4 separate regions of the Homo sapiens genome follow, and all the other regions are reported to be linked to region 4. The links are microRNA targets in miRTarBase. Many come from high-throughput screens and were not tested one by one. Region 4 holds a microRNA gene; each other region holds the end of a gene's coding sequence.

Region 1 (3,000 bases), not on the chromosome of region 4:
ACCACCATTACCGTCCTGACCTCACCATCTACTTTTCTCCCCCTCAGTAATTCCACTATTGCTCAGCTGCCCCTGGTTAGAGCCACCTTGATACCCTGTTTTACATCTGTAAACACTATAATTCTGAGAGAAAGAAAAAGCCCACCACATCCTACAATTGTGACCCCCACAACTATATGTTAATAGATGCTCCATGCCTGAAATTACCTCAGCCTCTCTGTGATGTGTGTTTAATGCTGAGTTAATGAAAAAAATTCATAGAATTGATTACTATAATTATTTTGTCTTAAAAGGTATCTCAGCATGTGGGAAGTATGTTCTACAAGAAAACTCTTTCATTTCCTATAAGACAAGCATTTGATCAACCAGCAGATACATCCCCTCTTCTGGATCCTAATTCCTGGAGTGATACAATGAACATTTTTTGTCCCCAGGATACAATAATTCCTAAAGGAATTGAGCGAGGTAGTATGAGAAACTAAAAGCCCTCAAGGAGGAAGAATAGTCTTAGCCAGTTTTCCAAAGAGCCTAGGATATTACAAAGGATGTGTGAGGATTTCCCAGTACTGGATGGAGAATGAGAAGAGAAAGTCAGCCTTTCTGGGGCTTTCATGGAGGAGACTTGCCCAAGGGGCTTCCCTGCCAGGGCTGAATGACCCCAGCACCAAATGACTGGAGACGCATCCTTAGGAGCAAATGCTAATGAAGGGGAGATTTACAAACATCAAGAAAGCTGCAGATGGATGTTTCCATGAAGAAATCTCTGAAGAAACCAAAAGAGCTGAAACTGAAAAAAGAGCTCCCTCCCTTTTTTCACTCATTTTCCATTCCCAAACCCTGAAAGAGATAAAGGCAACCCAATGAAACCACAGAGAGGCAGAAGAGAACGGGCAGAAGTACAGAACAGAAATGGAGAAGCTGACCACGACTCCATCTCTTCTCATTCCAGATTTCCAGCGTGAAGCAGGCCCAAGCTAGGGAAGGTGAGAAGCTTTAACCTTAAATTTTCGAGTTTTGGCCAGGCGCGGTGGCTCACGGCTGTAATCCCAACACTTTGGGAGTCTGAGGCGGGCGGATCATGAGGTCAGGAGATTAAGACCAGCTTGGCCAACATGGTGAAACCCCGTCTCTACTAAAAATACAAAAAAAAATTAGCTAGGCCTGGTGGTGCGCGAATGTAGTCCCAGCTACTCGGGAGGCTGAAGCAGGAGAATTGCTTGAACCTGGGAAGCGGAGGCTACAGTGAGCTGAGATCGTGCCACTGCACTCCAGCCTGGGTGACAGAGCAGGACTCTGTCTCAAAAAAAAAAAAAAAAATCGAGTTTGAATATTATTCATGACTAGGTATTTTATTTCTGAAATACAACTATGTTATGACTGAAAGTGACTGGAGGACTGCTTTTTATCTGAGAGGGAGGTGAAAAGTCATAGTATCCACTTGAGATTTCATCCAAGGGGTGGGGAAGTTATCTCTGCAAAGCAGGTTTGAGCTGGCAAGGTGGAGTGCTCTCTGCTCACACCCTGTGGAATCCCACATTTTCAACTTGATGTTTAACAGAATGTCTCTGAAAGGATAAACAAGAAAATGATGACAGTTTGCTCAAGGAGGGGATTGGCTAACAGGATATGAAGTCTTCTTACCATATACATTCTTGAACATTTTGAATTTTTAACCATGAGAATATATTTTCTATTTAAAAAATTTACATTTAACATGAGCAAACTCTAGAAAGCAGCCTCTGAGATGGCCCACAAGGATCCCTGCATCCTGGTATCCCAAGCCCTTGTGTGATCTACTCCGCTTGAGGGCGGGCTGGGGGTATTGAGGCTTTTCTAATGAACAGAATACAGAAGGCGTGATAGATGGGATGTCACTTTTGTGGCTTCTGTCTTGGGTGCTCGCTCTCTCTCTCTCTCTGGATTTCTCACTCTTGGGGAAGCCAGATTCTTTGTCTCCAGGCAGCCCTGTGGAGAGCCCCACATTAACTTGGAAATGGATCTTCTGACGCTGCCAACAGCCATGTAAGGAAACTTGAAGGTGCCTCAGCTCCAGCCCACAGCTTGATGGCAGCTCATGAGAGACCCTCAGCCAGAGGCCCCCAGCTAAGCCACTCTGGATTTCTGACCCACAGAAACTGTAAGATAATAAATGTGTGTTGTTTTCAGCCACTAAGTTTTGAAGTAATTTATTTCACAATAATGGAGTACTAAAACAAACAAATTAAGTTGCATTTAGTAAACACAAATTGCATGCTACCCACATTCACTTTTTGATTTGGAAGGTGGGCTTTTGAAATCATTTTCCTATAAGCCTAATTTAGTTAAGCTTCCATTTCTTTCATTTTTACTAAGACAACAGGTTTTTCTTCTGACAAAAACTGTATGAAACCATCACATGTATTTGTGAATTGTTACTTTACTCTCTTGGTCCCTTTGCTGAAAGAGAGACAGGGACAGACAGAAAATCCTCCCATATTTCAAAAATATGTCTTTTTTAAGTTATTTAAGATGGCAATAAGCCAATGAATAACGAGTGGCAAGATTTTTACTAAAAATAACTTGAAAAATGCTTCACTTCCTCTTTCCCTCTTTTTATTCATCTGATGCTCAGTGTACCGAAGAACTGTTTGGTCACGTGACATTTCACCTGCTATACTACCCAGCAAACAGAAGTTTCACAAAATGCCAGGTGTGAGTTACAGATGCTGTGGTGAGGGATAAAAAGAAATGCTTAATATTTTTAATGGCAAAGTGATAATGAGGTTCAATCACTATGATGACTTTTGAGTTTCGTATTGCTGCTAAATAAGTCCATTGAGTTGGTAATTGATTGATTTGCACAGATGTATCTCAATGTTGCTCTAAGGAAAATGTTCCGATATGCCATCTTGGCATGTACTATCACCAGAAAAAACCACTGTGCTTAATTTTAGGTCCATGCATTTAAAAAAGAACCAGAAGAACACATGTAAAGGAGGCCCTCCCCAGCTCTCAGTACTC
Region 2 (3,148 bases), not on the chromosome of region 4:
ACACAATAAGCCCTTGGACTACATGTGCTTAAACTACGCGGGCTCATGTGTATGCCGGTTTTTTCTGTCTCTGCCACCCCTGAGACACCCTTCCTCTTCCCCTTCCTTCTCAGCCTACTCAGCGCGAAGACAACAAGGATGAAAACCTTTATGATGATCCACTTCCACTTAATGAATAGTAAATATATTTTATCTTTCTTTATAATTTTTTAAATAACGTTTTCTCTAGCTTATTGTAACAATACAGTGTATAATGCATATAACATATAAAATAAATGTTCATCAGCTGTTTATGTTATCAGTGAGGCTTCCAGTCAACAGTAGGTTATTAGTTGATAAGTGTTGAGGGAGTCAAAAGGTACATGTGGATTTTCGACTGCATGGGGATCAGTGCCTCTAACGCCCATATTATTCAGGGGATAATTGTTTATATATATGGGTGTGTGTGTGTATTTTTTTTAAAAAGCCTTTATTATATTGCATAAAATGAATGAATCAAACAATAGATGTACTTTCTGTATCTTCTGCTCTGTGTGTTTCAAGCTGTATTTTTCTCCATCCTTCCAATTCTACTCGTTTTCCGTTTTTCAAATTTTTTAATCTACTTATGGGAATTTTTCTAATTTTCTCTCAGTAATTATGAATCATCTTTTTAAAGCTACATTTTATATTATTTCATGGAATGTAGGATAAGAGGAAAGACAAAAAAACTGTGCTCAATAGACTACCTGGATCCCATTTCTGAAAACATGGCATGAGACTGAAATAGTTATGCTAAGTAACCACCCATGGATACCAAAATGGAAAATAACTAGTACCTGGGAGATGTCTTTGAACTGTACCACAAGAGATATTAAGCTGGCTTGCACTGGTAGGAACGAACCGATCTGCTTTTATAACCAGAGTCTGTTCCGATGAGTTGGCATCTACATCATACCAGGTGTTACATATTTTGAAAACCATTCCTGATGTACAGTAACATAATTCACAAATCATTACTAAAATGTCTCCTTATCCTAGTTGATGGATAGTAGAAATTTTCTTTGGGTATTAAGTGTCGCCAAAGAAGAGAACAGGAGTAGAACCAACTTCCTTATCTTTTTAAGTCCATCTCACAGTGACTATAATGTCTTCTTCATCAACATATCCTTGGTGCCTGGAACAGTGCCTGACCCATAATAGAGACCCAGAAAATATTAATAAACAAATAAACCTATATTGAATAACATTTGGCTTCTATTTTCTCACTTGGAAAACGAGTTAGATCAAATCCCTAGTCATCCTAAAATTGAAGATTTTATAATTTCATTTATAATTCAATAGTTTCGTATATCATTAAATCTACTAAGCAAAATGAAAAATCAAAGGCTTCATTCTTTCAGACAATTCCATCATGTATTCACGTTGGAAGATAAACACCAATAATAGAACAACAAAACTTTCTAAAATTATTTTATTTTTTATAATTTTCTAACACATGGTGTTAGAAAATGAATTTTGGCACCGTGATTAAGAATTTCTTTTCAAGTTTAACCTTTACATTAAAAACAGTAGCTACAATAAGGATATTTCAACCTTACTTAGAGAAGTGATAAAACATCAAGTCAACAAGTATTTTTGTTGGAGAATTTTTTTATAAGCGGGATAGAGGGAAGTTAACATAGACACTCAGAAGAATAAAATGGAAATTATGCCAGGAAGATAAAAAAGCAAATAACCCTCCCCCCAAAAAAAGAATAAGGAGCGAGACAAAGGGCAAAACGGAAGAAGCAAGGCTCAACAACTTTGTTTTCCTGATATAAAATTCAAGTACTTAAAAAGTTTTTTAAAAAATAATTAAATGCACTACTCATCTCAATGAAATTTTTCGTTTTCCTATTTTCTAGAACTTTCTAAAAAAGGAAACAAAGCAAAAACAACAACAAAAAAAACCTGTTTGACTTAAGGACACTTGCTGATCTTGACACTTGATAATACTTTAAGAAATGGAAAGGTTTTCCTAAATCTAATACCTGCTTAATATAATCCACTTTGGAAGATTCATCTGAAAGAAACATAGGGTTTGATTTTTAATACTAATATAAAATAATCTGCCTTCCAATCAAAACAAAAATGTTTTCAACTGTATACGCTCCTCGGTTGTGTTTTGTACCATTTTCTTGAGGAAAACGTTGTGTAATTCTTTGTGTGTTCCCTTAGTAACTACTGTAAATAAGACCTGCATAGGTGTTCAGAAAAATACTTAGTTGCATACAAATCCAGTTAGAATCTGATTTTCAAGGTTTTACAACATGGTAATTTTCATTTATATCCATTTTGTCTACATTTCCTCTATATTTTGATAAATAAAAATCTTCCCATGCTTTTTTTAAATAAGAAAATATTATTAGTCTTGTTATTTGTACCTAAATATTTTATCAATTTGAAACACAAATTCATAAATTGTCATTATTCTCAGAGGCAACAAAGCATAGAAATAAATATTTAAGTTTTTTCTTTCTTTTCTTCTTCAATCTGTGTTTTAAGGCTCAGAGCAGACATTAAGAAATATCAAACAATTTTTTATAAAAAGTTTTTCAAATGTTTGGCCCAAAGTGAAGTTGTTCTGTTGATGTTATTTAAATATTCCTCTCATCTTCTCAGCCACAACTTCAAAGACGTGTTCATGCCAGTCATTCATCCAAAATAAATTTCAATTCAATGAAAAGTAAATAACTTAGGGATCTATAAATGACACTGCAATGTATCTTGTTCCATTTTTAACAGGAAGTCCTTCATGCAAATGTGTGAGTCTCCCAGGATGCATGAAGCTCCAGCCTTTTCGTGGTGACTCAATAGAGCAATTGTACCTTAGAAATTTGCAACCACCTCCCTAAAAAAGTTAAAATGAAGAAATACATCAGATTATATTTAACCAGTGGCAAAATTCAAATTATGTCATTTGAGCAAAATTTAAAAAAGAAACTAAGGCCTAAGGCAAAGTCCTTTTCATAATGATATATTTCTTTTGAAAAATCTAAAAACACAAGAGTCATAATTACCTGAAAGTCTTCTCCCACGTTATTAAGTGCAATGTTTATGGTAAATGTAGAAGCATCATGATGAGGACGAAGAGAACGCTGTCGTTCAGGGGAGTATTTTACTACAA
Region 3 (3,143 bases), not on the chromosome of region 4:
ACGGGAATCTTCTGTGATAGATCTATAGTCTCAGGCTTCCAGGCTTCCTATTTAATTCTTGTTACTTCTCATACTGTGGGTTCCATTTACCACTGGACGTTACATTCCTGATATTCTTTTTGCAAAGACTGAACTGACTTAGATGACCTTTGAATAACTCTACATCTTTTCCTTAGAAATTGACCATCTGATCAGTAGTTGATTTTTTTTTTTTTTTTTTTTTTTTGCTTGGGATCATCACATTGAAGAGTCATTGAATTAGTAGAGAAGGGATACCATAAACTTTGTGTAGCATAACATTTCTGATTATTTATTTGAAAAAACACTTCGGTCAGTGAAAAGAATATATATTTTTTTCACAACATTACTGTTGATTCTTCCAAAGGCCACGTTTTCAGTTTCTTTATCCAGAGATGTATGGGGTTAATAGCAGAAATAATGCTGCTGTTAGGGGAAGGCTTTCTGACCGATGAAGTCAGTCCAAGTATAACTCTCACTCTCCCTGGAGGTCTCTGTGGCATTTGGCAGCCCCCTGGGTTTAGAGGACACCAGAGGAAGACAGAAAGCCTCTTTGGCTTGACGACAAATCACTCTTCTGTATTCTGGGAAGACTTTTTAATTCATTCATGTCAAAACATCCCAGACTCATGAGGAAATGGAGGCGATCCTTGCTGGGGTGGATTAAGGTCTGGAATGCACTGGAAGGGCAGAAGGTAGAAAGGGCTAAAAGGCTACACAGTCATGGAGATTCAGATTTAGGATCAGATGTTGGGGTGACTATTCTGGGCCCTTCGATCCAGGCTTCTCCATGGCTGGGTCTTGGGGCAGCAGAGGTACAGCATCCGGGAAATAAAATGTCATTTTCAAGCACATGCATCCCCAGCACCTAGTCAGCCCCTTCTGCCTTTCAAAAATGAAAGGAAGCTCCTCTCACCCACTGCCTCCCTCTGTCTCCCTATGATTGACCCTGAAATTTATTGCAACCACTTTTCATTATAGGAACACTGTAGGTCAGGTGTACTTTCCCAAAGATGGAGCTATTCCATGCATCCTTGAGCTTTAAGGGAATCATCCCTGACACTTGCCCACATGCAAGAAAATAATACTTACAAAACAGAACGCACACCATGAGGAGAAGAAATGGGATAATTTTTCAACCTGCCACTTTATCCCTTTCTTCAAGAATGTAAAGCAGAATGCAGGAGGAAACCAGGAAATGGCCAGGCGAGTCTACATTAGCTTAGTGTTTCCGTAATGGCCCAAAACAGACTGAGGTCTTCTGCAAACACTGATGGCTAGTTATCCCAAATACTTCAAAAATATTCATGTACATGAAATACACTAATTAACAGAGTAGAACTATATAAAAGGTTTAGTTAATATTATTTGCTGGTTTTATGATATTTAATTTTTAAACTAGAAAATCCTGATCTGAGAAAGTGTCATAACATAGCAACTATCTTGTCGGGGGCACTTGTTTTTGTGGCAGGCACTGTGCTAACAGGCTCCCCATGCATAAGTATTCCCCTCTCTGTCTCTAACTTAAAAAAAAAATGGATATCATTTCATGTCATATATGCACAGGTTTGAGGAGAATAAGAATGGGATAATGCAGGCGACTCAGAAATGACAAATACTTTGAGGAATTTTTCCTACATCTCTGTTGGTGCTATGAAGTGGTTTGCCACCAACAGAGAGAATAACTCAGAAGGGAGAAATTGCTTGTCTCACTAAACTGTATCCACAGTTTGGAGGATACTCAGGGTAGATCCAAGAGTGCCTCGTGTTTTGAAGGCTTTTGATTTGAGGAGTTTGGGGTGGAAGTGAGTGTCCAACAGAATTTCTGGATGTGAAGGAAGATAAACCTAAAACCATGCTAGCCTTCGGCAGACAGATGGCATTGTACTTCTTACAGATCACAGTACACATACGGCTGTTGGTGCATGTCACCACATTAACAACTCTGGGAAGAGCGATACACAGCTAATTGGACACCACCATGGCTGTTTGGAAACGGAACGAGTTATGGTTACTCTGGGAGGGAAGGGGTAACAGATACTATACAACCCTGAGTCATCACCAGAAGGGAGGAAATGCAAACTTACGTACATAGGCGTCTTCGGGATAAACTACAATGGCCACTGTGTCACAGACAGAAGATCCACACTTAGATCTCGGAGACATAAATGTGTTAGTTTATGCAGCTCTGAACAAGACCATCGAAGCCGAGGGTGAGAGAAACACACATCAACATCCAAAGAGATTCCTGTAGCTCTCCCCACCTGAGGGTCCCTCGGGCCTTTGGCTCCAGATGTGTCTTGGAAATGAACTATAATGAAGGTAGCACAGTCATCACGAACACACTGATTTGCTATTCTTTAGGGGAGCCTGGAGTTCTTGGGGTGAGCCTGGGCTGTGATGGAAGGCATAACAAGAAAGCTGAAACTGTTACGAGCCAAACTTCCTAATCTCTTGCACATGTCAATCGCACTACAGTGCAGATGCATTCTTAACTGTTTTTATTTTGTCTGTGTCAGGTTTACATGCACACCATATTGCTTATTCTGTATTAGAGAAACCATTAGGCATTTCTGATGAGAAAATTACATGGTGGGCTGACCTTAATGGAATTTGGAATATAGGAAATCATAACATCACCATTGGCATCCAATGCATCATTATTGCCAACATACCCAGTAGGCATGTCCCGGAGACTTGCCCTTATGTAGTTAGTTATTTTTGGTTAAGGACTCACCTATCTGGTGTCTGCCATGCTCAGCACACACCTCACAAGATTCCTTGAGTGGAAGATTATGGCATGAAGCCGTGTGCAAAAGAGCCAACAACAACAACAACAAAATACCTCCCTACATCTTCTTCCTCTTAGCAGGGCACTATTGGACATCCAACATTTACCCTCCAGAACATTGGCCATTACGTATATTTCCCTATAGATAAAACATTAATGGAAGATTTTTAAACATCAGATTCGATACTAGGCATTTTCTTGTACACGCGTCTATTGCTGCAGGAATTTAAAACCCTGGGGGTAGAGTACATATTATTCTTATTTGCAGCATAAGGCATAACATGCTCCGAAATATACACATCATTGTGGCCCCGACTGTCCCTGGAACAGTACG
Region 4 (3,175 bases):
AGAGGTGGGCGCGATTGATGTCCGGATGGACTTCGCTGGGCAACCAGCTGCTGACCATCCACCTCTCTGGAGCAGGTGAGTCGATCCAGGTCAGGTTCCGGGGGCGGGCCTCGGGGGGCAGCCTGAGCATAGCTCTTCTCTCTGCCAGCTTCTCTTCTATTTGCAGGATGAGCACAATCAGACTGTCTAGGGAATCCGGCTGAGGGACCCGGAATAGATAGTGCCTGATCTCCTCGTTGAGCCCCTGGCACAAGTGGGCCTGCAGGACTTCATCTGGCCAGCCCAAGATGGGTACCAGGCTCTGGAACTCATCGATGTACTCAGTGGCAGAGCGGCCGCCCTGCCTGATGGTGAACATGGCCTCTTCTGCCACACGCAGTGCCTGGCGGTACTCAAACACTTCGGACATGGCCTCCAGGAAGGCTGGGAAGTCTCCGATCAGGGGGCTGTTTTCCTGCAGTAGAGCTTTGGCCCATTCTAATGCCAAGCCGGACAGGTGATTGATGACATAGCCAACTCTCAGACGGTCGTTATAGAACATTCTTGGGTAGCTCTGTAAGGTCAGTTGGCAGAGTACGATGAACTCGTGGAATTCTCTGCGATCGCCAGAGAAGTGCTTTGGGGCGGGCAGTTGGCCTGCATTGATCCCTTTGATCAAGATCTCTTCTGCTACTCTCTGTTGCTCTTTGAGGTCTTGCATTCGGAAGTACAGCGAGATGATGGACCTCACCATGGCCATAAGTTCTGCGGTTGAGTGCTCGGTCTGGTTTTGCTCTTGAGGAGTCTCCTCCCTTCCCGATTCCTTCAGGTCAGTGTGAGCCTCTTGTTCTTCTCGGGCTCCCGATGGGTTGACTGATGCTTCTTTCATCCTATCAGATGCTCCACTGAGTGGATCCCCCCTTGCCTGGTGTGAACCGTTGCATGACTCCTCCAGGTCTTGGAGTAGGTCATTGGGTGGATCCTCTATTTCCTTACGTGGGCCACTGGATGGCTCCTCCATGTCTTGGAGTAGATCAGTGGGCAGCTCTTCCATTTCCTGGAGTGGGCCACTGGGGGGCTCCTTCTTTTCCTGGGCTGGGCCGCTGGCTGGCCCTGCCTCTCCCCGCACTCCACTGCCCGACGTCGCCTCGGTGGTGTTGGATGAGCCCTCGGAGGACTCCATTTGTTTTGATGATGGATTCTTATGCTCCATCATCGTCTCAAATGAGTCTTCAGAGGGTTCTATCATTTCGTCGGATGGAAAGGAGTGTATTCTGAAGATTGGTAAGGTTGTGATGGCGTCCAGTCAGTAGCTGGGACCGTGGAGATCAGAACCTGGTGGTGGAAGGGGAGTGTGGGGAGTAAAGGCAGTAGTTTAGGATCTTGTGAAGTGGCAGTATCAGGGTCTCAAGGACAAATCAGATGCCCAACTAATCAGAGCAGAGAGAAATGGGGGAAAGCCTTCTTGTATCGAGCCAGCCTCTTTGGCTGGTCACTTGGGGTGCCCCCAGGGAGGGAAGATCTGTCAACCCCTGACCTGCCTCCCAGGCTTATTCAGTCTGCCTGTCCTGTCCTTTTCCTCCATAGATGTGAGAAATTCACAGCCCATAAATTCTGTGGCTGGGAGCAGCCACCGTGGCAGGCGGGTACCTGGCAGGGTGCACAGGCTGCTCCATTCCCCCCTGGCACATGCACCTGGTCAATCCTCTTTTCCTGCTTTGGTCACCTGAGAATCACAGAGGTCACATCTCAGCACCATCCAAAGCCACCCCTGGCAGGCTCAGGGCTCTGGAGCAAGCCCAGCCACCTTGGTTGTGGAGCGGGAATCTCTAGCAAAGATGCCTACTGTTTCACCAGTGCAGTGGAAGAGGAGAAAATGGGCACTTGGCCACTGTCCCGTCAGTTGGGTCAGCAGCCCAAAATAGTTCTTATTTCCTTCCCCATGTTCAAAATAGAAATTTCAGGGGGTGTGTACAGGTCTGGGTTTTTTTTTTTTTTTTCCATAAATTTTATAACATACCTACTATGTGCTGGATAACTGCATATTTGTTACTTGATTCTAACTCAGACTTTTGGCCAATTTCTCTTTCTCGATTTGGTCTCCTTCCAATGCTATGTTCTCCCGACCTCTGAGCTGTTGAGGAGATCTTCAAATAATCTCCTTCTCTTCCTACAATCTCCACTCTCCCAGGACTGCCCTCTTTGTGAGGCTTCTGGAACTTCACACATCTGGCCTCAATTTCACCAGTGCAAGCATATCTGCACGCCTCTCCAATCTTATCCTCCCAGGTCCCCTTCTTAACGCCAGTGGGTCTGGTCTCCTCTTTCTAGCAAATATCTTTTTCTCTCTGTTGCTGGTTGAGCCCTCCCAACAGACATGTATCTGGCAGAGTTGGGACATTGAGTGTGGGGGTTGGGGGGAACATGTGACATCTTTGGAATCTGACGGTCCCAGAGTGGATTTTTGGAAATCTAGTGTTGGGTGGTTTTAGTGGGCTGAGACAGAATTGAAAGGGAATGTCTTGGTTGGGGTTATTTGCACATTTCTTCTCTGCTGGGGCAGAGCAAATTAAGCTTTGATTATCTGATAGATTAACTGTAAAGCTACTGCTCTTTATAAATTTAACACCTTTTGTTACTTCTGAGTTTTCTTCTAAGCCACTGGACCCATCCGTAAAAAAAAAAAAAAAAACTGCGTTCCCCCTTACGTGAAACTCATTGGCTAAAATCCAAGCTTTCCAACAGGATACAAAATTCAGATCTGCTGTTTCTCAAAATTAAGTACACCCTTGTTAGCATGACACTTAAATTTGATCATGCAGTCTCTCTGATTAAAGCCTTCCACTGTTTATTTACTGTCTGCAATATTAAATCCAAACCTTCTAGCGTAAACATATCTGACATGTAAACTCACCAAAACTATTCTCTGGTTAAAATGTAAGGGCCTTAATATAATATAAAATTCTTATTTTGTCATTCCTCAAGGTAGAGATCACATTTTTTTAAAGCACAGTATACAAATCAGCATGGTATAGGAATTATAAGAATCATCATCATCATCATCATGATGTACATAGCACATTGCAGAAATTAACTCATTTCCTCTCCATAAAAGTCCTCTGAGATATGCATTATTACTGTAAAATTCCAAACCTCTAATATAAAATTCTAATTGAAATACAAATAAATAATTCTA

The links. Region 4 holds the annotated microRNA hsa-miR-136-5p (ACUCCAUUUGUUUUGAUGAUGGA, at 1,156-1,178, shown strand). A microRNA usually pairs through its seed, bases 2 to 8, with sites in the 3' UTR of a target mRNA and lowers its output. Matches are read on the target gene's strand: a 7mer-m8 pairs with bases 2 to 8, a 7mer-A1 pairs with bases 2 to 7 and ends in A, and an 8mer does both.
Region 1: miRTarBase lists SAMD7 as a target of hsa-miR-136-5p. Seed matches in the 3' UTR shown: 7mer-A1 at 571-577 and 8mer at 909-916.
Region 2: the mRNA of PLOD2 is a reported target of hsa-miR-136-5p. The part of its 3' UTR that is shown has no 7-base or 8-base seed match.
Region 3: the mRNA of GRIN2A is a reported target of hsa-miR-136-5p. Seed matches in the 3' UTR shown: 7mer-A1 at 804-810.

The regions. Positions count from the first base shown.
Region 1 is chr3:169,938,025-169,941,024 of GRCh38, forward strand. SAMD7 (sterile alpha motif domain containing 7) reads left to right here. Exons shown (of 9, transcript NM_001304366.2): 9 at 294-1,151. The coding sequence ends at 482. Among named protein-coding and RNA genes, the nearest start is that of SEC62, 27 kb to the right of the region's middle.
Region 2 is chr3:146,068,001-146,071,148 of GRCh38, forward strand. PLOD2 (procollagen-lysine,2-oxoglutarate 5-dioxygenase 2) reads right to left here. Exons shown (of 20, transcript NM_182943.3): 19 at 3,042-3,148; 20 at 1,440-2,872. The coding sequence ends at 2,717. It overlaps LNCSRLR (lncRNA sorafenib resistance in renal cell carcinoma associated), which reads right to left and starts at 1,185. Exons shown (of 2, transcript NR_146297.1): 1 at 819-1,185.
Region 3 is chr16:9,760,173-9,763,315 of GRCh38, forward strand. It overlaps GRIN2A (glutamate ionotropic receptor NMDA type subunit 2A), which reads right to left. Exons shown (of 13, transcript NM_001134407.3): 13 at 1-3,143. The coding sequence ends at 2,977. Among named protein-coding and RNA genes, the nearest start is that of LINC01195, 310 kb to the left of the region's middle.
Region 4 is chr14:100,883,561-100,886,735 of GRCh38, forward strand. MIR136 (microRNA 136) reads left to right here and starts at 1,142; the gene lies at 1,142-1,223. RTL1 (retrotransposon Gag like 1) reads right to left here. Exons shown (of 4, transcript NM_001134888.3): 4 at 1-1,314. The coding sequence starts at 1,228. It overlaps MIR432 (microRNA 432), which reads left to right and starts at 923; the gene lies at 923-1,016. RefSeq lists a silencer at 2,132-2,426.